Homo sapiens: one gene and its partner. The protein of the gene in region 1 purifies or fractionates together with the protein of each later gene. This does not show direct contact. Each region holds a gene or a part of one and is shown in the gene's direction. Other genes may lie near its edges. The genes, in order: RNASET2 and PDIA5.

What was found.
Region 2: the proteins of RNASET2 (region 1) and PDIA5 purify together in Homo sapiens (affinity purification with mass spectrometry; 3 studies listed by BioGRID and IntAct, with this or other methods). This does not show direct contact.

Annotation. Positions count from the first base shown.
Region 1 is NC_000006.12:166,953,551-166,969,455, reverse strand, and holds the start of RNASET2 (ribonuclease T2 precursor), read left to right. Parts: upstream 1-12,905; 5' UTR 12,906-13,273; coding exon 13,274-13,359; intron 13,360-15,905.
Region 2 is NC_000003.12:123,115,752-123,131,222, forward strand, and holds part of PDIA5 (protein disulfide-isomerase A5 precursor), read left to right. Parts: intron 1-479; coding exon 480-547; intron 548-8,314; coding exon 8,315-8,406; intron 8,407-8,520; coding exon 8,521-8,592; intron 8,593-14,728; coding exon 14,729-14,865; intron 14,866-15,471.

The DNA of each region.
Region 1 (15,905 bases):
CCCGATGCTTCTGTTTGATGTTGATATTAACAGACATGTACAGAAGGTTAACACTATGATGAGCCAATTAGCCATCCCACACACAGACTTATTAGGACAATAATAAAAGCCAAATGATGAGGACATCTGGTTTACTTCAAGCTAGTGAAGACAAGTCATAAGTCATCATCTTAATCTAGTCCAGGTAAACAATTTTGTGGTTTAACTAGCTTCCCAAGCCAAAATCAGCTCCAAGAGTAAAAGTAAATTACTTTAATGACTAACTATATTTTGAGGAAGGAACAAGATAGCCTTTAGACTAAATAGACTCTACTTTTTAATTTGTGGCCAAATGCTTGAAAGAGATTAAAGGAAAATGCAAAGATATGTCAATATAAGAAAACAAAATAAAATAACAAAATAAGAAAACCCTTTTATTCCTAAATTTGATTTATAAATGTCAATATGGACTCATGATATATTTTCTTTTAAAAAAACATAAATCAAGGCCGGGCACAGTGGCTCACGCCTGTAATCGCAGCACTTTGGGAGGCCAAGGCAGGTGGATCACCTGAGGTCAGGAGTTCAAGACCAGCCTGACCAATATGGTGAAACCCTGTCTCCACTAAAAATACAAAAAAATTAGCCAGACATGGTGGCACACACTTGTAAGTCCAGCTGTTTGGGAGGCTGAGGCAGGAGAATCACTTGAACCTGGGAGGCAGAAGTTGCAGTGAGCTGAGATCACGCCACTGCACTCCAGCCTGGGTAACAGAGTGAGACTCCATCTCAAAAAAAAAAAAAAAGAAAGAAAGAAAAAAAGAAAGAAAAAGAAAAAAAACCATAAATAGAACAAATGAGCAAACAAAATTTATTTCCTAGCTCTATCTGCTGAAAAGTGTTAGAAACAAGGACCAACCCAGGGGCAATAAGCAACCCTTGGGCCAGGACTATGACCTCTAAATACAAATTTCAACTAAAAAGAGCCAGGGTTCCCTTTAACAAAATAAGGCAGGAGTAGCAATATGTGTATTAACTGATATGGAATTTGAGGCCAAATGTATGACAGTACAAAACAGGACTTTAATGACAAAAAGATGAATTTTATAAAGAAAATCAAAAGAAATTGTATCAAGAAAAATAAAATGTTATAAAGAATGTCATGGCCAGGCACAGTGACTCATGCTTGTGATCCTTTGGGAGGCTGAGGTGGGTGGATTGCTTCAGCTCAGGAGTTTGAGACCAGCCTGGACAACAAAGTGAGATCCTATCTTTATTTTTTTTGAAAGGCACAGAGTGCAAGTTGGATTGAAAAAACAAGACCTATCCGAGTGCTGACTTCAAAAGACTCATCTCATACATAATGACACCCATAGGCTCAAAGTAAAGGATTGGATAAATATTTATTATGCAAATGGAAAACAAAACAAAAAAAAGAGCCAGAGTCACTATTCTTATATCAGATAAAATAGACTTTAAACCAACAAAAGTAGAAAAGGACAAAGAAGGGCATTAAATAATGATAAAGATTTCAGTTAAACAAGAAGACTTAACTATCCTAAATATATATGCACCCAACATTGGAGCACCCAGATTCATAAAACAAGTACTTCTAGACCTATGAAAAGACCTAGACAGCCATAAAATAGTAGCGGAGGTTTTCGACACCCCATTAGAAAGGTCATTGAGGCAGAAAACTAACAAAGAAATTCTGGACTTAAATTGGACACAACCAGCTGGACCTAATTGACACCTACAGAACACTCCACTGATCAACCACTCTTCTCATCTGCACACAGAACATACATCAAGATTGATCACTAGCTTAGCCATAAAGCAAGTCTCAATAAATTCAAAAAATCAAGATCATACCAACCACAATCTTGGGCCACGGTGGAATAAAATAGAAATCAATACCAAGAAGATCTCTGAAAACCACACAATTACATGGAAATTAAAAAACTTACTCCTGAATGACTTTTGAGCAAACAATAAAGTTAAGGCAGAAATTAAAAAATTATTTTAAATAAATGAAAACAAAGATACAACATACCAAAATCTCTGGGATGCAGCAAAAGCAGTGTTAAGAGGAAAGTTTATAGCACTTAACGCCTACCTCAAAAAGTTAGAAAGATCTCAAATTAACCATCTAATATAATTCCTAGAAGAACTAGAAAAACAACAACAAACTAAACCTAAAACTAACAGAATAAAATAAGTAACTAAAATCAGAGCAGAACTAAACCAAATTGAGATGCAAAAATCCATACACAGAATCAACAAAACCAATAACTGGTTATTTGAAAAGATAAACAAGACTGGCAGACCACTAGCTAGAGTAACAAAGAAAACGAGAGAGACAAAAGATCCAAATAAGCACAATGAGAAATGACAAAGGCAATATTGCAACCAATACCACAGAAATACAAAAGGTCCTCAGAGACTATTATCAACACCTCTATGTGCACAAACTAGAAAATCTAGAGGAAATGGATACATTTCTGGAAGCACACAACCTCCCAAGATTGAATCAGGAAGAAATTGAAACCCTGAACAGAACAATATCAAGTTCCAAACTTGAATCAGTAATAAAAAACCTACCAAACAAAAAAAGCCCTGGTCCAGATGGATGCACAGCTGAATTCTACCAGATGTTCAAAGAAGAGCTAGTACCAATCCTAGCTCTTCGATTGATTCTTGGAATCATTTTTGGAAATGATTCCAAAAAATCAAGCAGGAGAAACTCCTCCCTAATTCATCCTACAAAGCCAGAATCACCCTAATACCAAAACCTGGCAAAGACACAACAAAAAAAGAGAAAATCACAGGCTAATATCCCTGATGAACACAGACAGAAAAATCCTCAACAAAATACTAGCAAACCAAATCCAGCAGCAACATACACAAATCAACAAATGTAATGCATCACATAAACAGAACTAAAGACAAAAACCATATGATCATCTCAATAGACATGGGAAAAGCTTTCAGTAAAATCCAACATCCTTTCATGATAAAAGCCCTCAGCAAACTAGGCCTCAAAGGAACATATTTCAAAATAATAAGAGCCATCTATGACAAACTGATAGCCAACATACCAAATGGGGAAAAGCCAGAAGCATTCCGCCTGAGAACCAGAACAAGACAAAGATGCCCACTGTCACCTCTCCTATTTAACGTAGTCTTGGAAGGGCTAGCCAGAGCAATCAGTCAAGAGAAATAAAAGGCATCAAAACAGGAAAAGAAGAAATCAAACTATCTCTCTTCACTGATAATATGATTCTATACCTAGAGAACCATAAAGACTCTATCAAAAGGCTCCTGGAATGATAAATGACTTCAGTGAAGTTTCAGGATACAAAATCAAGACACAAAAATTAGTAGCATTTCTATCTACCAATAATGTACAAACTGAGAGCCAAATCAAGAATGCAATTCCAGGGCCAGGTGTGGTGGCTCACACCTGTAATCTCAGCACTTTGGGAGGCTGAGGTGGCCAGATCACTTGAGGTGAGGAGTTCGAGACCAGCCTGGCCAACATGACGAAAATCTGTCTCTGCTAAAAATACATTAGCCTGGTGTAGTGCCGGGCACCTGTAATCCCAGCTACTCAGGAGGTTGAGGTGAGAGGATGGCTTGAGTCCAGGAGGTGGAGGCTGCAGTGAGCTGAGATGGTGCAACTGCACTCAAGCCTGGGCAACAGAGTAAGACTCTGTCTCAAAAAAATAAAAAAAAATAAGCCAGTCGCAGTGGCTCACACCTGTAATCCCAGCCCTTTGGGAGGCCGAGGCGGGCGGATCACCTGAGGTCAGGAGTTCGAGACTGGCCTGGTCAACATGGTGAAACCCCATCTCTACTAAAAAGTACAAAAATTAGCCAGGCATCGTGGTGGGCGCCTGTAATCCCAGCTACTCAGGAGGCTGAGGCAGGATAATTGCTTGAACTTGGGAGGCAGAGGTTGCAGTGAGCCAAGATCGCACCACTGCACTCCAGCCTGGGCAACAAGAACATGACTCCATCTCAAAAAAAAAAAAAAAAAAAAAGCAATTCCATTTATGATGGCCACAAAAACAATAAAATATCCAGGAATACATCTAACCAAGGAGGTGAAAGATCTCTACAGGGCAAACTGTAAAACTCTGCTGAAAGAAATCATAGATGAGACTGGGCGTGATGGCTCATTCCTGTAATCCCAGCACTTTGGGAGGCCAAGATGGGCAGATCACGAGGTCAAGAGATCGATACCATCCTGGCCAACATGGTGAAATCCTGACTCTACTAAAAATGCAAAAATTAGCTGGGCATGGTGGTGCACACATGTAGTCCCAGCTATTCAGAAGGCTAATGCAGGAGAATCGCTTGAACCTGGGAGGCAGAGGTTGCAGTGAGCTGAGATTGCACCACTGCACTCCAGCCTGGTGACAGAGCGAGACTCCATCTCAAAAAAAAAAAAAAAAAAGGAATCATAGATGACACAAAGAGTAAAGCATTTGATGCTCATGGATTGGAAGAATCAATATTGTTAAAATGGTCATACTGCCCAAAGTAATCTATAGACTTAATGCTATTCTTATCAAACTGCCAACATCATTTTTTCACAGAATTAGAAAAAAACTATCCTAAAATTCATATGGAACCTAAAGGAGCCTGAGTAGCTAAAGCAATCCTAAGCAAAAAGAACAAAGCTAGATATATCATACTATCCAACTTCAAACAATACTATAAGTCTACAGTAGGCTGGGCTCGGTGGCTCATGCCTGTAATCCCAGCACTTTGGGAGGCTGACTTGGGCGGATCACGAGGTCAAGAGATCTAGACCATCTGGCCAACATGGTGAAACTCCGTCTCTACCAAAAATATAAAAAATCAGCCAGGTGTGGTGGCACGCACCTGTAGTCCCAGTTACTCAGGAGGCTGAGGCAGGAGAATCCTCAGCTTCAGGAGGCTGAGGCAGGAGGCGGAGGTTGCAGTGAACCAAGATTGCACCACTGCACTCCAGCCTGGGCCACAGAGTAAGATTTCATCTCAAAAGAAAAAAAAAAGACTACAGTAAACAAAACAGCATGGTACTGGTACAAAAATAGACACACAGACCAATGGAACAGAGTAGAGAACCCAGAAATGAAGCAGCATACCACATACTTACAGTCATCTGATCTTCCACAAAGTTGACAAAAATAAGCAATAGGAAAAGGACTCCCTATTCGAAAAATAGTGCTGGGATAGCTGGCTAACCATATGCAGAAGAATGAAACTAGACTCCTATCTTTCACCAAAAGTTAACTCAAGATGGTTTAAGGATTTAAAAGACCTCATACTATAAGAATCCTGGAAGAAAACCCAGGACTCACCATTCTGGACAATGACCTTTGGAAAGAATTTATGACCAAGTCCTCAAAAGCAATTGCAGCAAAAATGAAAGTTGATAAGTGAGATCTAATTAAACTAAAGAGCTTCTGCACAGCAAAAGAAACTATCAACAGAGTGAACAATCTACAGAATGGGAGAAAATATTTGCAAACTCTGCCTCTGGCAAAGGTCTAATATCCAGGATCTACCATAAAATTAAATAATTTAACAAACAAAAACCAAATAATCTCATTAAAAAGTGGGCAAAAGACATGAATAGACACTTCTCAAAAGAAGAGATACAAACAGCCAACAAACATATGAAAAAATGCTCAATATCAGTGATTGTTAGGGAAATGCAAATCAAAACCAGAACACCAACCAGAATGGCTATTATTAAAAAGTCAAAAACCCCAGCTATGGCAACATGGTGAGGCCTTCATCTCTATACAAAAAAACTTTTGTTTTTTTTTGAGATGGAGTTTCGCTCTTGTTGCCCAGGCTGGAGTGCAGTGGCATGATCTAGGCTCACCACAACCTCCGCCTCCCGGGTTCAAGCGATTCTCCTGAATCAGCCTCCCAAGTAGCTGGGATTACAGGCACACACCACCATGCCCAGCTAATTTTGTATTTTTAGTAGAGATGGGCTTTCTCCAGGTTGGTCAGGCTGGTCTCGAACTCCCAAACTCAGGTGATCTGCCCGCCTCGGCCTCCCAAAGTGCTGGGATTACAGGCATGAGCCACCTCGCCCAGCCTACAAAAAATTTTAAAAAATTAGCCAGGCGCTGTGGTGTGTACCTGTGGTTCCAGCTACTCGGGAGGCCGAGGTAGGATAATTACTTGAGTACAGGAGGTCAAGGCTACAGTGAGCAATGTTCACGACATTACACTGCAGCCTGGGTGACAAAGTGAGACCCTGTTTAAAAAAAAAAAAACAACTCAAAAAACAACAGATGTTGGCAAGGCTGTGGAGAAAAAGGAACATTTCTACACTGTTGGTGGGAATGTAAATTAGTTCAGCTACCGTGGAAAGCAGTTTGGAGACTTCTCAATGAATTTTAAAAAGAACTACCATGGTCAGGCGCGGTGACTCACGCCTGTAATCCCAGCACTTTGGGAGGCTGAGGCGGGTGGATCACCTGAGGTCAGCAGTTCGAGACCAGCCTGACCAACATGGTGAAACCCCATCTCTACTAAAAAATACAAAAATTAGCCGGGCATGGTGGCGGGTGCCTGTAATCCCAGCTACTCGGGAGGCTGAGGCATGAGAATCGCTTCAACCTGGGAGGCGGAGGTTGCAGTGAGCCGAGATCATGCCGTTGCACTCCAGACTGGGCGACAGAGCAAGACTTCATCTCAAAACAAACAAACAACAAAAAAAACTACCATTTCACCCAGGAAAAATCCCATTACTGGCCATCTATCCAAAAGAAAACAAATCATTCTACCAAAAAGACACATGTACTCTCACGTTCATCACAGCGCTATTCACAATAGCAAAGACATGGAATCAACTTAGGTGCCCATCCATGGTAGGCTGGACAAAGAAAGTGTGGTATGTATATACCATAGAATACTACACAGCCATAATGAAAGAATGAAATCATGTCCTTTGCAGCAACACGGATGCAGCTGGATTATTCTAAGCAAATTAATGCAAGAACAGAAAACCAAATACCATACCACATGTTCTCACTTAAAAGTGGGAGCTAGGCTGGGCACGGTGGCTCACGCCTGTAATCCCAGCACTTTGGGAGGCCAAGGCAGGTGGATCACTTGAGGTCAGGAGTTTGAGACCAGCCTGACCAATATGGTGAAACCCCATCTCTACTAAAAATACAAAAATTAGCTAGGCAGCCGGGCATGGTATTTCACACCTGTAATCCCAGCACTTTGGGAGGCCGAGGCGGGAGGATCACGAAGTCAGGAGATCGAGGCCATCCTGGCTAACACGGTGAAACCCTGTCTCTACTAAAAATACAAAAAATTAGCTGGGCATGGTGGCAGGTGCCTGTAGTCCCAGCTACTCGGGAGGCTGAGGCAGGAGAATGGCGTGAACCCGGGAGGCGGAGCTTGCAGTGAGCCGAGATCGCACCACTGCACTCCAGCCTGGGCAACAGAACGAGACTCCGTCTCAAAAAAAAAAAAAAAAAAAAAAATTAGCTAGGCATGGTGGCCCTCGCCTGTAATCTCAGTTTACTCAGGAGGATATGACAGGAGAATTGTTTGAATCCAGGAGGCGGAGGTTGCAGTGAGCGGAGATCAGGCCACTGTACTCCAGCCTGGGCGACAGAGCAAGACTCCAATGTCAAAAAATAAACAAATAAGTAAGTGGGAGCTAAACCCTGGTTACCCATGGATGACAAGATGGCAACAGTAGACAGTGGGGACTATTACAGAAGGGAGGTAGGGAGCAGAGCAAGAGTTGAAAAACTAACTATACGATACTAGGCTCACTACCCAGGTGACAGGATGAACATACCCCCAATCTCAGCATCACGCAGTATACCCGTGTAACCAACCTGCACATGTACCCCCACATTTAAAATAAAAGTTGAAATTATTTTTTTAAAAAATACTTATTAAATATCTATTAAATTGTTGTTGTTGTTGTTTTGAGAGGGAGTCCAGGCTGGAGTGCAATGGCGCCATCTCGGCTCACTGCAACCTCCGCCTCCTGGGTTTAAGCGATTCTCCTGCCTCAGCCTCCCAAGTAGGTGGGATTACAGGCACCTGGCACCACGCCTGGCTAATTTTTTTTTTTATTTTTAGTAGAGACTGGGTTTAACCATGTTGGTAGGGCTGGTCTTGACCTCCTGACCTCAGGTGATCAGCCTGCCTCAGCCTCCCAAAGTGCTGGGATTACAGGTGTGAGCCACCGAGCCCAGCCAAAATTAACTGTTAATGTAATATTAAACTATTATTTGTAATGCAGAAGGGCTTATCTAAAGTAAAGCAGCTCAGTTATGTAGTAAAATCTCAGAAGTCTAAAATGCCTTGCTTATCTTTTTAAGATAAATAATTGTAAGACAGCTCAAGTAAGCAGCCTAATATCCACGTGTATAGGAGTATGTGTGTGCATGTGTGTGTATGTGTGTGCATGTGAGTGTGTGTGTAAGCTCATGGGTTTTTTTCTTTTCCTTTTTCAGAGTAAATATGCTTTGAAAATTTGACATCCATGATTAAATGTAATATATTGCTTTGCTTCACATTTCATAATAGCATGCTATTTGATCTGATTTATTCTTATTGTCTAGTTCCAGAAAGTTTTTTCCCTCTGGTTCCATCAGTTAAGTCACACTTGAAGAACAAATTATATTGTGAGAAACACATGACTGGTCTTTTCTGTTTCTCTCCTGTCCTCCTTTTGTCATGGCCACAGCTCAGAATAAAAGAGTTCCACAAAATGTGTACCACAGTGGCCAGGCTGGCATGGCAAGGCCAGAGGTGCTGGGACACCCTGACCAACATGGTCAAACTCCGTCTCTACTAAAAACACAAAAATTAGCCGGACGTGGTGGCACACGCCTGTAATCCCAGCTACTCGGGAGGCTAGGGCAGGAGAATTGTTTGAGCCTGGGAGACGGAGGTTGCTGTGAGCCGAGATTGTGCCACTGACTGCACTCCAGCCTGGCTGACAGAGTGAGACTCTGTCTCAAAAAAAAAAAAAGAAAAAGAAAAAGAAGAGAAAGGGCAGGGAAACACCCAGCAGCTGGCCTCACTTTCTCAGCAAATAAGTAATTCAGGATGGAAAGGAGTTTTTAAGGTGAGATTCTTTCAAGTGTGACAAAGCTCTTTAGAGCATGAGAATCCTAAACTGTGTAGTTGTGCCACTGCTCTGCCATTGGAATGGCCAGCACCAGATATGGGCTGTTCCTACCGCCTGGGTTCCAGAGTGAAAAATACCGTGGACCACAGTGGCATCTGACGCATAGCCAGCATGGAATATGGGCAAATGAATGATAAATGATCAACTTCCGTTTAAGTGAGACACTGAGATTTGGGGGCGGTGTATTATTGTAGCATAACCCAGCAAAAGCTGGCATGGAAACAGGAAACCTGGAGCTAATGCCAAGAAGAGGTTGTGTGGTGAAAGTATCTTGGTCTCTTCAGAATTAACAAGGATTTAAGGATGTCTGTTCATAGACATGGCTGTTGCCATCCTGTCCCCCTCCCCTCTCCTAAGGACATGTTTCTATACAAGCCAGCAGCATCTTTTAAACCTCATAGTTTGTACCCTTTTACACTATGTTGTGTGAGTCAATGTAATTCCCACTCTGGCCCCTGCCCACCTGCTTGATGCTGGAGCCCTCTTTGTTTTCGTAAAGCTGGGCGGCTTCCAGACCCAAATCCAGCCTTTACAGCCACTGCCTCTTCCCTACGTAGGGTTCCGTTTAGGATCCTGGTAGGTGGACAAGTAGTGAACAAGACAGATGACAGATGCTCCAGGTTCACATCCAAGTTTTGGGGGGTTGAGAGCTTTTCCATTTGGATGTCCTTCTTTAAGAACAAGAAGGTAAAATTGTGAATACGGAATGAGATATGGGGTCTTGGTGGGGCCCATGCCAGCAAGGGGCCTGAAGCTCCTCATTAGCTTCCGATGTGGGGGTGGGGGAGTAGAAGTGGGCAGTACAGGAGGAAGTGACAAGAATTCTCAGGGGTGGGGAGAACTGTGTCGAAAATAAACAAGGAAGTGCAACAGGAAATGACTGGGTGGCTTCTTCAGGCTGGGTAGGACGCTGCTGAATTTATCTGATAAAAATCTCCTCTCTGTGAGTTGTGGAAAGTGGCTTGCTGCGAGAGACCCCCTTCTTCCCCACATAACATAGGTAAGAGTGATAGAAGTGATGCAGCTGGGCGCTGTCTCCAAAAAAAAAAAAAAAAAAAGGAAAAGTGACGGATGCTCCCCTCACTCCACCCCCTACCCATTACCTAGGACAAAGCCAGACACAGATCCTCCAATTCCCATTCTTCACCTCATCAATGATGAGCCAGTCAATAGAAATAACACACTTGTTAAGCAAACTTGGTGAGGCTCCTCTCTTCCCCCGAGGCTGAGGACTTTTGGCCTCATCTTAGCCTGAGTCAGTCCCCCCTGAGAACAGGCTGGCCACGGGGTCAACCTTCTCTGATCTAATGTCCTATGAAGGCAGGTTCTCATCCCACTTCTCCATTCCCAGTTCATTCTTTCTCTCTCTTTCTTTTTCTCTCTTTCTTCTTTCTTTCATTCATTCTTTTTGTTGTTGTTGTTGACCGAGTCTCACTCTGTCGCCCAGGCTGGAGTGCAGTGGCGCGATCTCGGCTCACTGCAACCTCTGCCTCCTGGGTTCAAGCGATTCTCCTGCCTCAGCCTCCAGAGTAGCTGGGATTGAGGGAAGAGAGAGACCCTCTCATATTGTTTTATATTGTTTTATACTCAGTACCTGTTTTAAGAAAAAAACAAGGAAGTGAAATCAAAGACAGGCAGCCCGGCGCCAGGCCCAAAACCGGACCTGGGCCTGCCTGGCCTAAACCTAGTAGTTAAAAATCAACTCATGACTTAGAGACCGATGTTATTCATAGATTCCAGACATTGTATAGAAGAACATTGTGAAACTCCCTGCCCTGTTCTGTTTCTCTCTGACCACCAGTGCATGCAGCCCGTCACGTACCCCTTGCTTGCTCAAATCAATCACGACCCTTTCATGTGAAATCTTTAATGTTGTGAGCCCTTAAAAGGGACAGAAATTGTGCATTCGGGGAGCTCGGATTTTAAGGCAGTAGCTTGCCGATGCTCCCAGCTGAATAAAGCCCTTCCTTCTATAGCTCGGTGTCTGAGAGGTTTTGTCTGCCGCTCCTCCTGCCACAGGATTACAGTCGCGTGCCACCCCCGCCCAGCAAATTTTTGTATTTTTAGTAGGGACAAAAGGCCCCCAGGCCCCTGCAATAATGGTCCTCATAACACCACTCCTCCCCGAGTCCAGATTTGCTTTATATTTGGCAGTGGTCACAACAGCCCTCCTTGACAAGGGGCTGTTTAAACACACCGGACTGTGATTTAAAGGAAAATGAGGATTCTGGGAAGCACTTTTGTTTTAAGAAAATTATTTTTTTAGCTTAAAAGAAAAGAGAAAAAGAACTGTGGCGTGTGCCTATATTCTTGAGAGGAAGGAATGAAAGGAGCCGGAAAGAAACAAATAAGTCGTTAGGGAAAAGGAGAACGAGAATAACACCATGACCTGTAGGAGGTCCTGGAGGAGCTAAGGAGGTGTCAGCCATTTTCCCCCCCCATCTGTTCCACAGGTGGCATTTTATTGAGCACCGACTGTCCCCCATCCACTGTGCTCAGTGGCAGGGACTCAAGGTGGGCAAAATAGACATGGGCCTTGCCTTGCAGTCTAGTGGGAAAAACAGATTAATCATTTAAATATTTTGTTTCAAAGAATGGTAATGCATGCAGGCAAGGTCCAGGCCTGTGGGAGAGCAGGCTACAGGCCCACCTGCTATTTAGACAGTTACCAGTGGCAGAGGACCCCGAGGAAGGCGCAGTTTACTCGACGTGTAAATAGGAATAGCCTTAACTAGCTGTGGGTGTGCGGACAGGGAAGGGAAAGAGGAGAAACATCTGCAGAGACAATGCCGGGTGCACAGCCCGTGGGCGGGGCCGCGGGTGCAGGGGAACCCGTGCCTCTGAAGGGCTGGGAAGGCCAGGGTGTTGGGGGAGGAGACCGGGCCTATGGGACTGGCCCTGGCTACGCCAAGGTGGGGCTGACATGAAGTCCCCTTCATCCGTGGGGGGTGGCCCGTCCCTCTGGGAGGGGATCCCTCACAAGATGACTTCCCAGGTCGCGCCCCGAGGCGGCTCTTTGCTGCCCCCACAGAGATGACTTCCGGGCTCCTGGGGCCCGCGGGGAGGGGCAGGTGAGGCCCAGGGCTGGGTGAGGGCCAGGCCCTTCTAGGAATGTTGGTGCTCCCAGCACCTAGCACCGGGAGACTGGAGAGGTTTCCAGGAGAGTGACCCGAGTAGGTCCCCTCCTAATTCTGGAGCCGTCCCTCGGGCTGCGCAGTGGAGCGCCGAGGTGGCGGGAGGCTGCGGGGAGCCTGGGCGGCCAAGCACCATCTGCAGTCAGGAGCTCCCGGGCAGCTTGCAGGGCGCAGTTTTTGAAAGCGGGTGCTGCGTGCGGACCGCGGGCCTGCAGGGTGCGCGGGTCGGGCTGGGGGCTGTCCCTGGAGAGTAGAGTGGCCCTGGGGCCCGCACGCCCACTTGCTGGCGGGGGATGGCGCAGACACGGGCGGTCCCCCCGAGGGCGGTCCTCACGGGTGGTCTAGGTTAGCTCGGACCCGGGAGTGTGGGAGTGGCGCAGAGCTGCGGGAAAAGGCGCGGGGCGCCTGCGTGGCGAAGGAACACAGCCGCCTGACACGCCCTCAAGGCCCGCGGAGCTGCTCCTGCCTCGGCCTCTCTGAGCCAACCACGGGGCGGGGCGTGAACGCCGGGCGGGGACGTGCCGTTCTGGGGGGCGTGTCCACCGGCGGGGGCGTGCCGTCCTGGGGGCGTGGCTCTCTGCTCCGGTGCAGGCCCGCAGGGCGCCCTGGGCTGGGAGCAACGCGACTGACCGTGGTCGTGGGCGGACGGCGGCTGCAGCGTGGAGGAGCTGGGGTCGCTGTGGGTCGCGAAGCAGAGCCCGGGACGTGCGCGCTTGGTGCACGATCCTGAAGGGGAGCTCCGAGGGGCCCGGGTCGCCAGGGCTGCTGCGGCCATTCCCGGAGCCCGGCGCGGGGCCCGCGAGATACTGGTTTAGGCCGTCCCAGGGCTCCGGGCGCACCCGGTGGCCGCTGCTGCAGCGGAGGGAGCGCGGCGGCGCGGGGGCTCGGAGACAGCGTTTCTCCCGGAAGTCTTCCTCGGGCAGCAGGTGGGAAGTGGGAGCCGGAGCGGCAGCTGGCAGCGTTCTCTCCGCAGGTCGGCACCATGCGCCCTGCAGCCCTGCGCGGGGCCCTGCTGGGCTGCCTCTGCCTGGCGTTGCTTTGCCTGGGCGGTGCGGACAAGCGCCTGCGGTGAGTTACCTTGCGAGGTAAAGTGGGGAGCGTGGGAGCCGGGCCCTAGAGCTTTCCACTGGGTGAAGGCTGCAGCTCTCGGGGTCGGCGGTCGCTGAGCCCCGGGCAGCGACTGGGGAGGGCGGGGGGAGCCGAGCACGCTCCGGGGTGACCCCTGGGAAGAAGTTGGGAAGTTGAGCACGCCTCGGGGTGACCCCTGGAGGGAGTGGGTTGGGGGGAGCCCTTAGCACACTCAGAAGTGACCTCTGGGAAGGAGTGCGATGAGGGGAGTCCTGAGCACGCCCCGGGGTGACCTCTGGGAAGGAGTGGGTTGGGGGGAGCCCTGGGCACGCTCTGGGGTGACTCCTGGGAAGAAGTGGGTTGGGGAGCCCTGAACACTCCCCGGGGTGACCCCTGGGAAGGAGTAGGGGGTAGGGTGAGGTCCTGGGTACACTCCAGCCTGGAGCTGGACTGGAAACTCATCCCACAGACTGCTCCCAGCCTAGGACGCGACAAAGCAGGTGGCAGGCTTGGTGGAGCACTGTTCCTGCACTCGAAGTTCTCTCAGAGGTCGAAGAAGTCGTGGAGGGGACACTTAATTTCAGCTTTCACTGCGGCGGGTGGTGAAACGACGGTTCTTCCTCTTTTTGAGTATCCTGTTCTGAATCCCTTCCCTTGGCTCGCCCTCCGCGTGTGTGTGTGTGTGCGCGTGTGTGTGTGCGCGTGTGTGTGTGTGCGTGTGCGTTTGTGTGTGCGTGTGTGTGTGCGTGCGTGTGCGTGTGCGTGCGTGCGTGTGTGTGCGTGTGTGTCGTGTGTGCGCGTCTGTGCGTGTGTGTCGTGTGTGCGCGTGTGTGTGTGTGCGTGTGTGCGTGTGTGTGCGTGCGTGCGTGTGTGCGCGTGTGTGCGTGCGTGTGTGCGTGCGTGTGTGCGTGTGTGTGTGTGGCAGCCGCCCAAATTAATTAGGGGTAAACAGGCGGTGCTGCAAAGAACTCCAACTTTAATTCTGTGGAAGATACCAATATTTGAATACCATATTATTTCTTTCTATTTGGGTAATGATCGGGTTAATAGGATTTCTTACTTACATAGTAGGTGTGGAAAAGGTGGGTTTTACTTATTTATTTTTTTTTAGACAGTCTTACTCTGTCACTCAGGCTGGAGTACAGTGGCGTGACCTCAGCTCACTGCAACCTCCACCTCCCGGGTTCAAGCGATTCTCCTGCCTCAGCCTCTGAGTAGGTGGGATTACAGATGCACACCACCACGCCTGGCTAATTTTTGTATTTTTAATAGCCAGGCTGGTCTCGAACTTCTGACCTCAGGTGATCCGCCCGCCTCGGCCTCCCAAAGTGCTGGGATTACAGGCGTGAGCCACTGCACCCGGCCAGGGTTTTACTTTTTAAACACCTTAGGTATATATTTTTAATCATGTACATTAAAATGTAGCATTATATTTCAGTGTTCCGGAAAGTGTATTTTCTGAAAAAGAGCTACATTTATGTCCTTATTTATTGGCCATGAGGTTCAGAGCCTCTCACTGGGGAAGTCTGTGGCATGCTGGCCCTTGCTGGCTGAGTGGAAACTGCTAGTTCACACCCAGGTGTGGGACCTTTGAGCTCTCTATGCCCCAGTTTCCTCATCTGTAAAGTAGAAATAGTAACAGTCAGCCTCACAGAGTTGGCTTCAGGAGAAATCAGTTAAGGTACAGAATGTAACTTGGAATGATGTCTGGCTGGAAGTAAACATTAGCATAAAACAGGCTGTCATATGTGGATCCCCCACCCCAGCCCATAATTCATGCAACTGATATGATCGGACAAACTTGAGCAGGCAAGATTTGCGAGAACATGGTTGATTCAGACCACGAGGGCTTCATAGGTCAGCGGGCATTTTCCCAAGTTCTAACTGGTTTTGAGACCTTGGTGATTTTTCTTTCTTCTTTGACTTTCTTTAGCTTCTCCATTACTTTCTCCGTGAATAGGGGAGGGGGGCATCTGTGTGGGAGGGGGTCTCCTGCAGTCACATCACTCTGCCTGGTTTTAGATGGAGAGTTTGTTACAAACGTCTGAGTCTTGGTAGTTTTGTTGTAAGCATATTGATAGTCTCATCTTCCTGGGTGTTGCTAAGCTTTCCAGCCTCAGGTTCCGACTATGTAAAATAAGGTTTTTCACCCAAGGGTAAAAAATGCTTTACCAGCTCCAATTCTCACCCTGCAGCTCATCCTTTTTTTTTTTTTTTGAGACAGGGTCTGGCTGTGTAGCCCAGGTTGGAGTGCAGTGATGTGATCTGGGCTCACTGCATCTTCCACCTCCTGGGCTTAAGCTATCCTCTTGCCTCAGCGCCTTCCAAGTAGCTGGGACTACAGGTTCATGCCACCACACCTGGCTAATTTTTGTAGAGACAGGGTTTCACCATGTTGCCCAGGCTGGTCTTGAACTCCTGAGCTCAAGCAATCCTCCTGCCTCTGCCTCCCAAAGTGCTGGGATTATAGGTGTGAGCCACCACGCTTGAACCCTTTTTTCCTTTTATACTGAGAGCTTGCATAATTAGTTCCAATGTACAACTAA
Region 2 (15,471 bases), on another chromosome or scaffold:
TGGACATCCCAAAAGTGATCGTATTCGTGGTCACACATTTTTCTTCATAATGGCATTTGACTCCAGCTCATTTGCAGGCCCTGCCTGGGCAGTGAGGGGTGGCCTTTTGCTGTGCGTGCAGCAGTTGCTCTCTTGACACCTGTTCTGGTTTTCTGAATCTCTGTTGAATTCATTATCAGTGCTGAAGTATTCTGGGCTCTGCTCTTCTCCCATCATGTCATGTTTGTTTCTTTAGTCCAACATTTATGAGTGGCTGCTGGGCAGTGCCTTGTTTTGCACCACTGATACAGTAAGCTCTTTGGGGGCTGAGACGCCCACCTCCTGTTCCTTTTGTGTCCCCAGGGTCTGGAATAGTCCTGAGCTTCTCAAGGCTGGATAAGTGCTTGTTGGGTAGAGGATGGCCATGGGGAGGCAGGGCAGGGTGCAAGGGCTCAGCCATCCCTGTAACCGGATGTGGTCTCTCTCCTGCCTGTGACCAGGGTGCAGCATGTGCAAGAGGATGATGCCGCATTTCCAGAAGGCTGCGACTCAGCTGCGAGGCCACGCCGTAAGTGAGGCGCCATTGCCTGGCAGGGCTGGGTCACTCTTGGACTTGGCGGAGGAAGGGTGCCAGGGGTGGGGTGGGGACAGGTTTTGAAATGGTGAGGATGACTGACCCTGCTGCCTGGGCCGTTGCTGAATCGCAGCCTTGCATGGAGCTCAGAGACCTGTTCTCTGTGAAGGTTGAGAACTCCACCAAGTTGCTGGGACCAGGAGAGTTTGACACCTGCCAAAGGCCAGTGATGAAATAGGACACCAGCAAGATGCACATGTGGCATTGTCAGGGGGCCAGGGACCAAGGTCGGAACATCGTGGGTCCAGAATTTTGAGGGCTGGGCTCTGAAGTGAGCTGAGGCAGCTGCTATGGAGCCCAGTGGCAAAGAAGAGGGTGTGATGACCTTAGGGGTGGACCAGAAGCATAAAGGGGGCTCACAGAGGCAAAGGCCTGTCCCGGCTTCCCAGGCTCTGTGGTTCCTGTGGGGCGGGAAGAACGGTGGGAACCAGAGGAGGAGGAGGTGGGGCTGGATGGGGAGCGAAAGACCTGGGAATGCAGGCATTCTCCCAGAAGGAGTGTAGGGAAGGATAGGCAGAATGGAGACACATGTGTCCTAGGGATGCCCACCTCTACAGGAGGAGGAAGAGGAGCCACTAAGGAAATGGGCCTTCAGAGAAGTAGGAGCAGCTGGGATGGGGCGGGGAGGTAGGAGGGGAGCCTGGAGTGTTGTGGGGGAGAAGAGAGCTGGGAGGGGGGATGGACCTCACACAGAAGGGCCGAGGGTCAGTCACCAAATGCTCCCTGGTACCTCTGTGTTCCCCCACCCTGCCAGGTTTTTTTGTTCTCTGCCTTGTGTCTATTATTTTTTCAATGTGGTAAAAAACACATAACATTACATTGACTATCTTAGCCATTTGTAAATGTACAGTTCAGTAGCATTAAGTATATTTACACTGTTGTGCAACCTTTCTCTAGAACTTTTTCATTTTGCAAAACTGAAATTCTGTACCCACTAAATATGAATTCTGCCTTCCCACCCCACTCCTGACCTTGATAAACTGCCTTTCTACTTTCTGTTTCTATGATTTTATATATATATATATATATATATATTCTGTTTTAGAGACAGGGTCTCACTATGTTGCCCAGGTTGGACTTGAGCTCCTGAGCTCAACCGATCTTCCCGTCTTAGCCTCCTGAATAGCTGGGACTTCAGATGTATGCCATCTAGCCAGGCCCATTTCTATGATTTTGACTATTTTAAGTTACTCCTATGAGTGGAATCTATAGTATTTGTCCTTCTGTGACTGGCTTATTTTGCTTAGCATTATATCCTCAAGTTTCATCCATGTAGCATGTCATAGGATTTCCTTCTTTTTTTAGGGCTGAATTATATTCCACCCTATGTACATACCACATTTTCTTCATACACTCATCTGTTGATGAGTTGCTTCTAGCTTTCTTGGCTGTTGCTCATAATGCTGCAATGAACATGGGTGTGCAAATACCTCTTTGGGATCCTGCTTCTAATTCTTTTGGATATCTGTTTATCCATTTTTGCACTTACCCCGAGTAGCAGAAGTGTCTTGATGGCAACATAAAAACAGCTGCCGGCTCCTCTAGGGAGCGTGGAAAAATCCATCCATCTTTCATGAAAGGTTATCAAGAGGAGCCATCTCAATAGTGTGGCCAAAGCCCCATTAAGGGAGACCTGAGGTCCTGAAACTGCATCATGATCTTTGTGGATCAAATTAAGTGGTGATTAGCTCAAAGTCAACTTAAAAAGTTTAAGTGGCAGCACCTGGGCATGGAGACGGCCCTGCTCGCCAAGCTGCAAGATGGGGCTGCAGAGAGCCAATGCTTTCTCTTTTGACCTCATTCTGGGGTGACACTGAGGTCCTGCTTGCTTCTCACTAATGAATTTTTAGTAACTTGCCTGGAGACATTGGCCTTGGGGCACACATACATCACCCCAGGGAAGTTTCACTTCACATTATTGGGACCTCAATAGACACCATATTTTGAGATTATTTAGCCTGGAGAAAAGACTTAATTACCCACAGTATTCTCTCTGCCTGCACCCGCATACACTTAGAAATCTGCTCAGCTCAACTTCCCGAATTCTGTGCTGTGGAAGGTAAGCAGCTCAGCCCCAAATCAGATCACAAGTTATTCCAGCCAGACCCACTGAAGCAGAAGAGAACTTGATGCCAGTCTCAGTGCATCTCGTGGGCCATTCTCAGCCAATGCTGCATCCACTGCCAAACTCAGTATTCTTCTAGGCCCCATCCCACGCTGCCACAGAGCTCATCCCTGTCACGCACAGCCAGATACGTTCATCTTTGCTTTTGTTCCAGATCACTTTGTTCAGCACTTGATACTAATTATGATATGTGAGTTTCTTGGGCACAGGAGTTGTGTTCATGTCTATTTCTTTAGCACATAGCACAGGGCTAAGCTCACAGTAGATATCCAGTATATGCCGATGAATGAATAGGGTTTTTGCTCATCACTCCTGGGGGTATGTTTTATTTTAAGCTCTATATTAAAAGTGATGGTCCTCTCTTTTAAAGGAATTCAGAGCATTTGTTATTAAGGCCGGAAGCATAGTGGGAAGGACATTTGTGGGACAGGTTATAAGGTTAACTGCAAAGACCACTCGTGTTCAGAATATAAGCTTCCAGCAGGGCATGGTGGTTCATGCCTGTAATCCCAGTGCTTTGGGAGGCCAAAGTGGGAGGATCACTTGAGGCCAGGAGCTAGATACCAGCCTGGGCAACATAGTGAAACCCCATGTCTACAAAAAATTTTAAAAATTAGCTGGGTGCAATGGCATACACCTGTAGTCAATGCTAGCTACTTGGGAGGCTGAGGTGGGAGGATCACTTGAGCCCAGGAGTTTAAGGCTGCAGGGAGCTATGATTGCACCATGCTCTGCACAACAGAGTGAGATCCTGTCTCTAAAAAAAAGAAAAAATGAATTCCAGCTTCTTCTGCCTGGGCCCAGGTCTAGAAATATAAAAGTTACCCATTCCAGTTCCCTCAACATTACAGAAAAGTCAGGGGCGTTGTCTGCAAAGCTGGGCAAGTCAAGCTGTGACCAGGTGTTGGCTGCCTTGGCCTAAGACATCTGGGTTGTGTAAACTCATTTCTTTGTTTGTATATTTTCTTGCTTGGGGTTTGTTTTGTTCTATTTTCCCTTTCATTTCCTAGAAAAGCATCTTCTGGAAAGTTCTAGCCCTTTCCCAGCTACATAAAGAGGGAAGGGCCCTGGCCGCTGCACGCATCACCCACGCAGGAGGCCCCTAGAGGCTAGGGCTTACTCTGCAGGGGCAGCTCCCCAGAAACTGGGGACCTGGCTGGAGGGGTTGAGTGACCACAGGTGTCAATTGCTTTTTGTCTTCACACACAGAAAAGAGGTGGGACTAATAAATGGGCTGCTATTCCCCAGAAATCAAAGTTCACCCCCTCCTCGCTGCTGAAACACAGCTGGATTAGGGCCTTCTGTCACTTCTTCATCTCTGTCATCTTTGAGCCTTTTTGGCTGGGTCTGTCTCTGGCAAGGGTCAAAAATCTTCCTCCTCTACAGATTTTTTGGGAGGTGTTCAACCTGATTGACATCATTAGGAAGGAAGGCATGCCAGGTCAGGGATGCACAGCCTTTGCCATTTCCAAACTTACAGCTGCCTCTTTTGTGCTGTCATTGACGTCTGGTGACTCATCGCGTCTGTCCCATCTACTCCTGCTAATTGACATCCTCATTAGCAGCCACGCTGCCCCCATCTCAGAGCAGCCATCAGAATGAGCCCTGTCTCCATCTGCCTCTTCCCAGCCTTGCCAGTTATTGACATCTGCACTGAGCCTTTGAGCTTTGCCTAGTCTTTGGTGGACCTCGGCCATGATGGGCCAGTCTGGGTATAAACACCATGAAATAGAACCATCATGACGACAGATTTGTACAGACCAGGCTCTAGTGCTGGCTCTTGCTAACCAGCTGGGAGATCTTGGTCCAAGCTCCTTAGCCTTGGAGCCTCCATTTCTCCATCTGTAAAATGGAGATGATAATGCCAACCCTGCCCACACTGGGTTGTGGTGAGGAACAAATGGGCTGTGTGGAAGAAGCCCTGTACCCCACAGAGCACTCATAGACACAGATGACTGATCCCCTCTCTTCCCTACAGCTGCCCTGCACCACATTCCTTCCACCGGCTAGATGGGGGTGCTCCCAAGGTTCCGCTTTCCTGTTAACACATTGGAGCAAGGTTTTGTCTTATTACAGTCTACCTTCCAGTGACCACATCTCTGTCCATAGCTTCAACAAAACGTAGCTCCATGGAGCCCAAGTCCTTCCCCTAAGTGCCAGTGCCACGTGTCAGATGGCTTGCTTCACAGCTCCATCTGGATTTTTTCCCTTGTGTCTCAAATGCATGTCTGAAAATTCAGTATCTTTCCATCTGGCAGACTGTGAACTTTGCATTAAGTCCTTTCCCCAGGGGCCAGGCTCTTTCCCCACCCCCCACCTCCACCTCTCTTTACTGAGGCATCATCAGGCATCTTCCTCATGCACCCTTCATCCTCTCCCTGCCCACCAGCCCTGTCCAGTGGGCTATGCTAGCTGGTGGCCAAAGGCTGCTGACTTGTCTCCTGACCACAGCATTCCCTCATAGCTCGTCCTTTCTGCTTCGAGAGATACAACTGGTTTGAGGGTTGCTTTCTTACTTAGAAACCCTCGGGAGCTCTCCGTCACTTCCTGAATACAGTCCCGATTTCTTAGGTATTTCAAGCCTTTCCCAAAGTGATCCTGGCCAACTCACTCAGCCTTTTCTTTCATGTCTTCTCCTTTCTGTGTATCCTGCCTTCCAGTTAGATGGAAATGTGCTCCATTTCTTGGGCCACATCTTTCTTTGCCTTGCCTCCAGTTCCCCATCCCGGGACGTCTGTTGAAATCTTACTCTCCTCTGAGTGCAAGCTCACATGCAGCCCACGCTAAGAAGCTGCCGTGATGGTTCCTGGCAGCAGGGCTGAACACACAGAAGAGCATGTCACGCCAGCTGAGTGGCCCCAAGCATGCAGATGGCAGTGGGGAGCAGGGAGGCTGTGTTCTTATCTTCTCCACAGGCCGAGACCAGGTGTGTCACCTCATTTGACTTCACAAATTCTAACTCCAGAAAGTGTTTGTATGTAGTTTTTCAAAAATTTTTGCCTCATTAACTAATAGATGCCCCCAAAATGGCACAAAAGTGCTACAGAAACTTGGAGAATTAAGAGCTCACCCCAAGCGAAGGTGGTTTGCAAAGGCTGCCCAGAGACGTGAGGTTTGATTTGCCTTAAGGGATGGGTGAGTCTGGAGGGTCGCCAGGAGGCGGGGGATGGGCAGCCTCAGTAAGGGGACTGGAAGGCACCAAGTGGGGGCCAGGAGAGAACAGCGAGTGTTCCAGAAGTGTGGGCAGAAATAGAGCACCTCCTAGTCCTAGTAACAAAAATAGCTAATACATTTTGTGTTATTGATTATCTTGTATTATTTCATTGAATCTTCTCAACAACCACATGAGGTGGCTGCAGATGAGGAAAGTGAGACGCAGAGACAACTGTGACTCATTCAAGGAAATGCGCGACCCCATGGGGAGTTGGGACTCAAACCCAGGCATCCTGAGTCCATGCTTCCAGCCACTGCATGTTGCTGCTGCACTCAGCAAGATGTCTGAGAAGGCAGACAGTCCAACTTCCTTCCTGTGCAGAAATCTCAGACTGTCTTATTCCTGGGAGAATAAAAAATCTAGACCCTAACAGGTGTACAATGAAGAGTTTTGTAAGAAAGAAAGATTCAAAAATGAAATAGGTAACATATGGGCATTGAATGTGGAGCTGGATTTTAGCCTATATTCAATGGAATTGGAAGGTTTTGTGCAGGGAAGTGATGTAATGAGCGAGGAGGACGTGTAAGATTAATCTGTGGTGAATGTGCACTGACACTGGGGAGATCAATTAGGCAGAAAAAAAAAGGACTTTTAAAGAAGACAAATATTACTGGAACAGGCCGCTGGAGCAGTCTGGGAAATGAGCAGAATGACTTTTATAGAGCGTTCCAGGGCTTCAAGTAAATTCGAATTCAAATTTATTCTTCCTGTATTATTTGCTGCATCCTAAAATGGGCTAGGAAAAAAAAAACAGTGAATTTAGTGAGCATTTATTGTGTCCTTGCTGTATGTGAGGCCTTGTGCTAGGGACTTAAAACAATTGGAAAGATATCCAGGTGCCCCTAGGAATGGAGAGGCCAGAGGCACAGTGGCTCCCATCACCAGGAAGACTTGGTAGGAAGATGACAGTTACTGAGCTCCAGTTTTGTGCTAAAACCTCTCATCTCATTTAGTTCTCTAAAGAGCCCTTTGATGGTCACATCTTCCAGCAAGGGACCTCAGTGAGGGTGAGTGACTTGCCCAAGGTCACATGACTCATAAGTGGAAGCTGTCTTTGCAATCAATTTATTGTCCACTGAAACGGTTATTTATTTTCCTCTCTCTCTGTGTCCTTATGTATTATTCAGTAAAGTTCAGCTTCCTGGGTTTCTTCTCTCTGCTTCTGTAACTACTGCTGGCTTTTTTTACTTACTTTTCCCTCGCTTCTATGCCACTCTGCTTTGTGGAACAACCTTTGTGTGTCGGGCCATTCTAGCTGTGTTCTCTGGTAAGAACAGATTCAAAGTCCTGGCTGGGCATGCTGGCTCATGCCTGTAATTCCAGTGCTTTGGGAGGTTGAAGTGGGAGGATCGCTTGAGCCCAGGAGTTGGAAGCCAGCCTGGGCAACACAGCAAGACCTCATCTCTACCAAAAAGAAAAATATACTAGCCGGACATACTGCCACATGTCTGTGGTCCCAGCTAATCAGGAGGCTGACAGCGGAGGATTGCTTGAGCCCAGGAGTTAGAGGGTGCAGTGAGCTATGATCATGCCACTGCAGAGGGAGTTTTAGGGGATTCCTTATATGAGTCAGTCTTAGTATTTAGCTACATCGTCGGTTACCCAGCTACTAAAATACTCTTTCTGATTCAGGGATAGTGGACATGTGGACCCCTGGAGCCAGAATATGTTCAGAATTCTGAGATGATGATCCAGCCAGGCTGTGGGTAATGGTCACCAACAGGAGGAAACACTGGGGAGACACAGCACGGCCTGGAAGGAGGAGAGTTAGGCAGGTGCCTCGTTTCTCATGTTGTGTTATGAGAACCACACGGCCTCCCTGGCCACATATAAGCTGTGAGGTTTGGAAACGTCACACTCAAGCCTAGGTGAGCAAACCGTGAGGTATCCAGGAAGGTGTCTAAGGACGTTGTACAGAGCTGAATTGGTGTATGAAAGCCACTTATTTCCATAGCCTAGGAAAGAGTACAACCCGAGTTGACATGAACAGAGAAATAGGCGTAACACATCCTTGGCAGTGGCCCCTCTCTGAGAGTAATGTGAACTTGATGGCAAGGCCCGGCTTCTTCTGCAACCCTCAGAACGTTGGTTTTGCTCTGGGGTGGTTCTTCCTGCAGGGAGGCAGAGGGAGCAGGCGTGCGGAGTGCAGCACTCGGCCCAGCTGCCTGACTTCTCCAGCGCCAGGTCATGATTCCCGGCTGGCTTCGCTGGCCTTGTTTCTCAGCAGCCCTGATGCACATCAGTCTGTGGGGCTTTGTCCCATATGTCTTTCTGGTGGGACAGCAGCTGGACAGATGGCGTGTGGACTAGAGGGTGTCTGTGGGGCACAGGCTCCACACGGCTCTTCTCCGCTTCCTCCCAGGTGCTGGCCGGGATGAATGTCTACTCCTCTGAATTTGAAAACATCAAGGAGGAGTACAGCGTGCGCGGCTTCCCCACCATCTGCTATTTTGAGTACGTCCCCCACTTTCCTTCTAAAGCTCACCTCCCTCCCTGGTGATTGACCATAATCTCAGGGTGGCATTTGCATCCGTGACTGAGCCCACGTTGTTTCTCCACGTTTCACAGGAAAGGACGGTTCTTGTTCCAGTATGACAACTATGGGTCCACAGCTGAGGACATTGTGGAGTGGCTGAAGAAGTAAGTGGGGTGTGTGTGTGTCAGTGGGCGTGGACCCAGAGGGCGGGGCATCTGCCGGGCCTGAGGGTCGCAGGGCTCTGGCTGGAGGTTGGGGGAAAGAATGAGGAAGGGAATTGTGGTACTGCCTACACAGCTGTCTCTGGCTTGAGTCTAGGCCACTGTGGGGATTGTGGGAATTTAGGTTGCAGGAGCCATGAGGATTTGGTGTGACTTTGGCCTGTGATGATCAGACCTGCCTGGGTGTTGGGTGTGGAGTCTGTCTCCCCTACCTCCCGTCTCCACGGGTTGGAACTGGGGAGGGGCTGCCTAAGCCTGTCAGCTCTTCTGGAATAGTCAGGGCCTTTCTGAATTCTTCCCACATTTCACATCAAGTTTCTCCTCAACACATCTATCTGATGGATAGAGGTATTTCTCACCCAGGCTACCAGGTTTGAGAGAGGTTCCACTGCAGGTCTCTCTGAAAATAGAATTGTCAGTTGAACACTTATTTCAAACACAGCACTGTCTTAGGTGCTGTGAAGGTACTAAGAAATATTCTAATGCCTTAGGTTTGCTGAGTGCTTTACTGTTCAACCCCCACAGGCATTGCTTCATTGCAACCTGTGATCCCTGTTTTATAACATGATTAGATCCTTGTAATGCCAAACCCCACCACCCTGTTGGCTCCTGCCTCCTTACCTGGAGCCTCCACTGTGCTAGGCCTGCTGCTTTGTCCTGCCAGATCACCCCATTCCCACTTCTCACCAGCACTTCCACGACAGGCTCACGATGTCCCCTTCTGGAAGCCTCCCCAGGCCACCCTCGCTGAGCACGCACCCTACTCAGGCTGCGCTCTGTGTGTCACGAGTTTGGCACTTACCAGCCACTGCTGCTTCATGAGTATTTGTGCATATGTGCTGGAGTAACAACAGCCAACATCTTTTGGGCTCTCCTTTGTGGCTGACATTGTTCTAAGCACTTTACATGGATTCTCATTTAATCCTCACAACAGCACTGTAAGGAAGATGTTACCGTTCTCTTCATTTTATGAATGAGGTCCCTGAGGCACAGTAAAGGGGTGGTGCCGGTAAGCAGTAGCAGGGCCCTGATGGGTCCCCGCCACCAACCCAGCTCCCTGCAGCCCCGACAGTCCAACTTAGCCTCCTCAAGTTCTGCTCGGAGCCCCTCCCCTCAGCTGCCGGCACAGTGGACATTTATTGACATCATTACCTTAGGAACACAGTGTGCAAACCCCAGGGTTAAAGAATTAGTTATCCAAGATATGGAGGTTGAAAATGTGTATTTTCAAAATGGGAAAGAAGGGTGGGTTTTGTACCAGGAAAAAAATGCACATGAAACTAACTGTTAGATTTCTAAAGGTGGAGAGTCTCCATCTTCTGTTCTGCCTACTCTCGGGAGATAAGGCACAAGTGCTAGCACATGTTTGCATCATGTCTTTTATTTCTTGGAAGCATTCTCACATCTCTGTCCCCATCGGCTACCTCATTTCCAGCCCCTGCCTGGGAAGGCTGCTGCCCATTATCATGTGTTCATTGTCTTAACCTGGGCCTTTGCTTTCCTGTTTTCCTTTTTCATTTGATAATAAGCGTGTCCTCTCCTCTATCCAGACACATCTCATTCTGCTTTGGGAGAAGGTCTCAACAAATAGCAATCTCATTTGTCACTAGAGCATAAAATCTGTCTGCTTCCCTTCCCTTCTCTAACCTTTTCTGATTTCAAAACACCCTCATATCTTTTTTGGAAGGATAAGGTTTATGTGGTTTTTTTTAAGTATTCAGAATTACCTGCTAACCCTAGACAAAGGGAGCACATCAATGGTGTTTCTGAAACAGGCTATTATCTCCCCGCTGGAGCCTCCTACTCCATCCTCCCACCCCTCTCCTCTCGGCACACCCCATCCCGGCTCCCCCACCCGCATTGCTCCGGCTGGCCTGCACCCCACAGCTGCCTCCAGTCTCTGGTCCTGGGTACCCCATCCCCACTTCCTACTTCCCCCCATCCCCCGCTGTGGGAGAGAAGGAGCTCTTGTTAACGGCCTTATCCTCTGCAAGAGCTAGTAATGTCATTCTGCTACCAGCTGGCTTAATTTTTTAAAGTCTTTTCTGATTTCAGAGATACTCAACTAAGATAGGCTTATTATAGAAAAACCTAAAAGTGTGGTTAAACAAAAAGTCCTCCCCCACCCTATTACCCAAAGATAGCATATTGTTATTATTTCCCCTACATAGATCTAGCTCTGCATGTGGGTTTTCCCGGTCCCACATGGATTAAGCCTTTTCCAGTTTCCCCTCACATCCTTTTGGGCAGTAGTGACCTCATCTTTCCTGCTTCTCTAGGTTTCTCCATTGGCTCTTAGCTGCTCAGGGCTTCTGTGCAGCCAAGTATACAAAGATGAGGGTGAAGCCAGCCTAGCTAATTCTCCAAATGGCTCTCAAATGCCTAGGAGAGAAGACCTAGGTCCTGCCCTTCAATGCGTGACTCTGGTGGTTGGACCAGGGAAGGGTGGCACCAGGTGAGGCAGGGCAGGGAGTCAGCCCCTGGCATCTGAGTGTATGAGGGCTCTGGAGTAGATGTGTTGATCGTGGCACTGGTGTCTTTTGTGTTCCTAATGGCCACGTATCTCATTGGCCACTTGAAGCTGTCACTGGTGAGTTGGGCTAGCAGACAGGTGGAGGGGTACATAAGCAGTGATCCATTTTGGGCAGGGTCATTTTGGCCTGTGTAGCTTTATGCCAACCAGAAGTGAACTGAATTAGCAAACACCAAGTTTTCTGGACTCGTAATGCTTAGAGTTGCATCTTCTCATCTATGGCACATGCATCTCCCTTAGATGAGGTTCTGATTGTGTGACCCTCCCAGTCCTAGAGAGCCTGGAACAATTGCTCTCTCCAAACTGCAGAGCTCATGAAATCAGTCGCATGAAGGCAGATCAGAAGGGAACATACAAGTCATCAAATCTGCACCAGCAATTCTCCTTTCAATGTTTGCATTTCCTCACTCCCATTGGACTCATTCTGAGGTTCCCCATTCATGCTTGAATGACTCTTATGATTTAGGTGATAAATGATATCTAGGAGCATTTGGGTAGTACTTTATAAAGTTACAAAGCATCTCACATCCATTCTCGGCCTATATGAGCCTGAGAGCTAGGTGAAGAAAGGACCACAATGCACTATCTTGTCACTGTTTTAAGCTGTTTGATTGTGGCTAGTGGAGGAAACAGGACTCAAGTCAGGTCTTCTGACTCCCAGTTTGGCCTTCTTTCCCTCTCCTCTGCTGAAGACAGAACATTCTTATTTACACCGAACTGGAGTTTCTCTGGAGCTTCCACTTGTTAGTGTTGGTTCTCCTCTTCAGGGCCCTAGAAAATAAATCTTAATTTCTTTTCTTAATGCAGTTTGGAATATTTGATGATAGCCACTGTGCTCTCTTATGTCCTTTCTCCGAATTAAACACTTCCAGTTCCTTAAGCCATTTTTCCCTGAATGAGGGGAATGAGCCTTCCCTCATTCAAGGAATGCTCCTGTTCAACGAGCATGTATTGAGTGTCTGCTGTGTATTGGGTGCAGGAGTTAGTAAAGGGGTGAGGGAGAGCCCAGTCTTCAAGGAGCTCACGGCCTGGGGTAGGCGGGGAGTGAAAAGCATCATTCAGTGTTTTGGGTTCAGACTCTCACTCAGTCCCTCTCTTCCCAGTACATCCTCTTACCACGGTGCCCAGTTCTCCAGTCCTCTCCCAAAAAGAAACTTCCAGTCATCTCCTGGGTGGGAGAGGGGAGAGCCCTAGGATCTGAGGATCTGACCACTCCAGTGACCGCTAAACCCTGTTTTCAGCCACAGGCTATAGCTCTGCTTCAAGGAGTGGGCCCCTGGGCCCTTCAGAGCCTTGTCTTCTGTGTGCGTGTGGTTCTTGGGCCCCTACTCTGCTTTTTCTGACCAGAAAGTTTTTTGTTTTTTGTTTTGAAACTCCTGAACTGTTATTTTAGCAGTTTTAGAGTGTATTCGCCTCTGTGTTTAACTAGAAGTTCCTCCCGTTCTTTCCTTCCGGTGCCTGTACTCCTGCAAAATATAGCCTTCTCCATCCTATATTTGTGCACTTGCTTGACTTTTTAAAAATTTAGTTTTTGAGTCAATTACATTCACATAATTCAATTTATTTTTTATTTTTTATTTTTTTATTTTTTTAGATAAGGTCTTGCTCTGTCACCCAGGCCAGAGTGCAGAGGGTACCATCATAGCTCACTGCAGCTTTGAACTCCTGGACTCAAGCGATCCTCCCACCTCAGCCTCCTGAGTAGCTGGGACTACAGGCACAGGCCACCATGCCCGACTAATTTTTTTTATTTCATATTTTTGTAGAGATGGAGTCTCACTCTGTTGCCCAGGCTGGCAAAATTTTAAGGTGCTTAAAAAGAATACATTCAAAAGTCTCGCTTTCACTTCTTTCCTCCTTATCCTCCCTCCTATACCCTAGAATTTACAACTTAGACCAGTTTCTTTTATGTTCTTAGAGTGTTTCTGTATGTAGATATTAGCAAATGTGAATAAGTATATTTTATCTCCCCCCTTTTAATGCAAAAGTTAGCAAATTCTAGACTGTTCCATCCATCTCCAGCAGTTTGTCCACATCAGTGCATAGAGAACATCATTCTTTGCAGTGCTCAGCCCTCCCTCGTGTAGATGGACAGCAGTTTACCTAACCCGTCCTTCCAATTTTCGCTATGACAACCTGCAGTGAATGCCTTCAGATGCACATAATTTTGTATGTGTGCAGGTGTATTGTAAAGATAAATTGCTCTGAAGTGTAATTGGTGGTGTTTTGAGGGGTCAGTAGTTTGAGCCCAAGTATAGGAACCTAGATTGCATGATGTTTGTCTAGGACCATTGTCTGGCTGGTGACTCATTCTGAAGCTTGATTTTGTCACCAGTCCCATCTGACATTGGATATGCATGGACTGAGATTGATTTGCCCTCTCCCTGCCTCCTTCCATTTCTTGGGACCTGGGAGGCCATGGTGGCCAGTGGGGCCCAGTCAGAAGGGCCAGAGAGGGCTTCTGAAGGCGACATCATACCCGGCTGCGGAGGGAAGTGGGTGGCAGAGTTCCATTGTGTCAGCCACTTCACTCCCTCTGGATTTTCCAGCCCTGGCTGCTGGAACTTTAAAATATTTCCTCCTGTAGGCTCTCAAAAGTGCGACACAATGGTTGTCTTTTCACATTTGTCATCCTTGAGGGTTTTTTCAAAGCTGCAATTAAGGTGCTCTGGCAAAGGTAGTTGTGACAGTAAAGCAGCAGGGAGACTGTGTCACCACCAGCCACCTTGTCCTGAACTTTGGGGCAAGGGAGGGCCCCTGCGAGCCTCCCTCCTCCTAGCAGATGATGACCTAGGACTGGCACACAGTCACGCTGCGGAAACAGGCTCCAGAGAGGTCAGGCGGCTGCCTAAGGTTTTGCAGCTGATGAGTGGTAGAGTTGATTTGGCTTCTGGGAGAACTAAATAAGTTGGTTGTTGGCCTCTGGGAAGGATTAGTGATGTAGCATACACGCTGTCGTAGTTAGGATACCCCCAGCCTTACTTCCCTTGCTGCAACCTTCCCCTGCACCCCCATGTGGCAGCTTCCCCTTGCATGGCCTAGATCTGATCTTTCTGAGATACCTGGCCTCTCTCTCTCCTCCTCACCCCCTCCTCTCTGTACCCTCTTCCTCCCCTCCACTGCCCAGTGGGCAGTTTTAAACACAACAGTGAGCTTTTCCAAAGGTCACCATTCACTGTTGCTATTTATTCTTTCCAGTTTGCTGAAAGTTTGAAATAGGTTGAGAAAGCTAACAAGCCCCTAGATTCCCAGGAGGAAGTGAGATTTCTTAGGCTATCTAGAGAGCTGTAGCCAGAAGCCACTGTTTGTAACAGGATATCAGCTAAGTACCTGTCTGGGGCTTTGCGGGGAAGGTGGAGGTGGGCAGGGCCACACCACTCACCCCACGGCACCTCCATGAGGGCAGTTTCTGGTTTGTTAAAGGCTGAGCCCCTGGAGTGGGCCGTCCCGAGCCCATGGGGAGCTTTGGGTCCAGGGGCCTGGAATTAGAAGGGCTGCCAAGGCCCCAGGGCCTGCTCTGAGCTCTGCCTGTTTTTGGTCTTCCAGTCCGCAGCCGCCACAGCCCCAGGTCCCTGAGACTCCCTGGGCAGATGAGGGCGGCTCCGTTTATCACCTGACCGATGAAGACTTTGACCAGTTTGTGAAGGAACACTCCTCTGTCCTCGTCATGTTCCACGCCCCATGTGAGTGGAACTTTGCTCCTCCCCCTCCACACCCTCCCCTCTCTCAGAGTAGGATGAGTGTGGCGCTTTGCAATGTGAACCCAGGAAGCACTTATTTTTTGGATGCCAGGACCCATGCTAAGCCAGGGGATGCAGTGGTGACAGGCGAGGTCCCCACCCTCGTAGTGCACATGGCCTACCCCCCATTGCCATGGAAACAACACAGAAGTCCTGATCAGGCTTTACTTGTCCCTTAGCTAGAGCTCAGTGAGTCTCCACCACCCCTAGCTCTGAGCATCTTCCTCCCAGTCAGCATGAATTGGAGAAATTAAGCTGGAAGCACCCTGAGATGTTACCTAGAACAGACTGGGCCTGGAAATAAAATTAGGGCTGATACCTCATATGGGGGCTCATACCTATAATCCCAGCACTTTGGGAGGTCAAGGCAGGAGGATTGTTTAAGGCCAGGAGTTCAAGACCAGCCTGGGCCACATAGCAAGACCCCATCTCTACAAACAATTAAAAATTAGCTGGGCATGTGGTGCACACTTGTAGTCCCAGCTACTCAGGAGGCTGAGGTGGGAGGATTGCTTGAGCCTGGGAGGTTGAGGCTGCAGTGAACTGTGA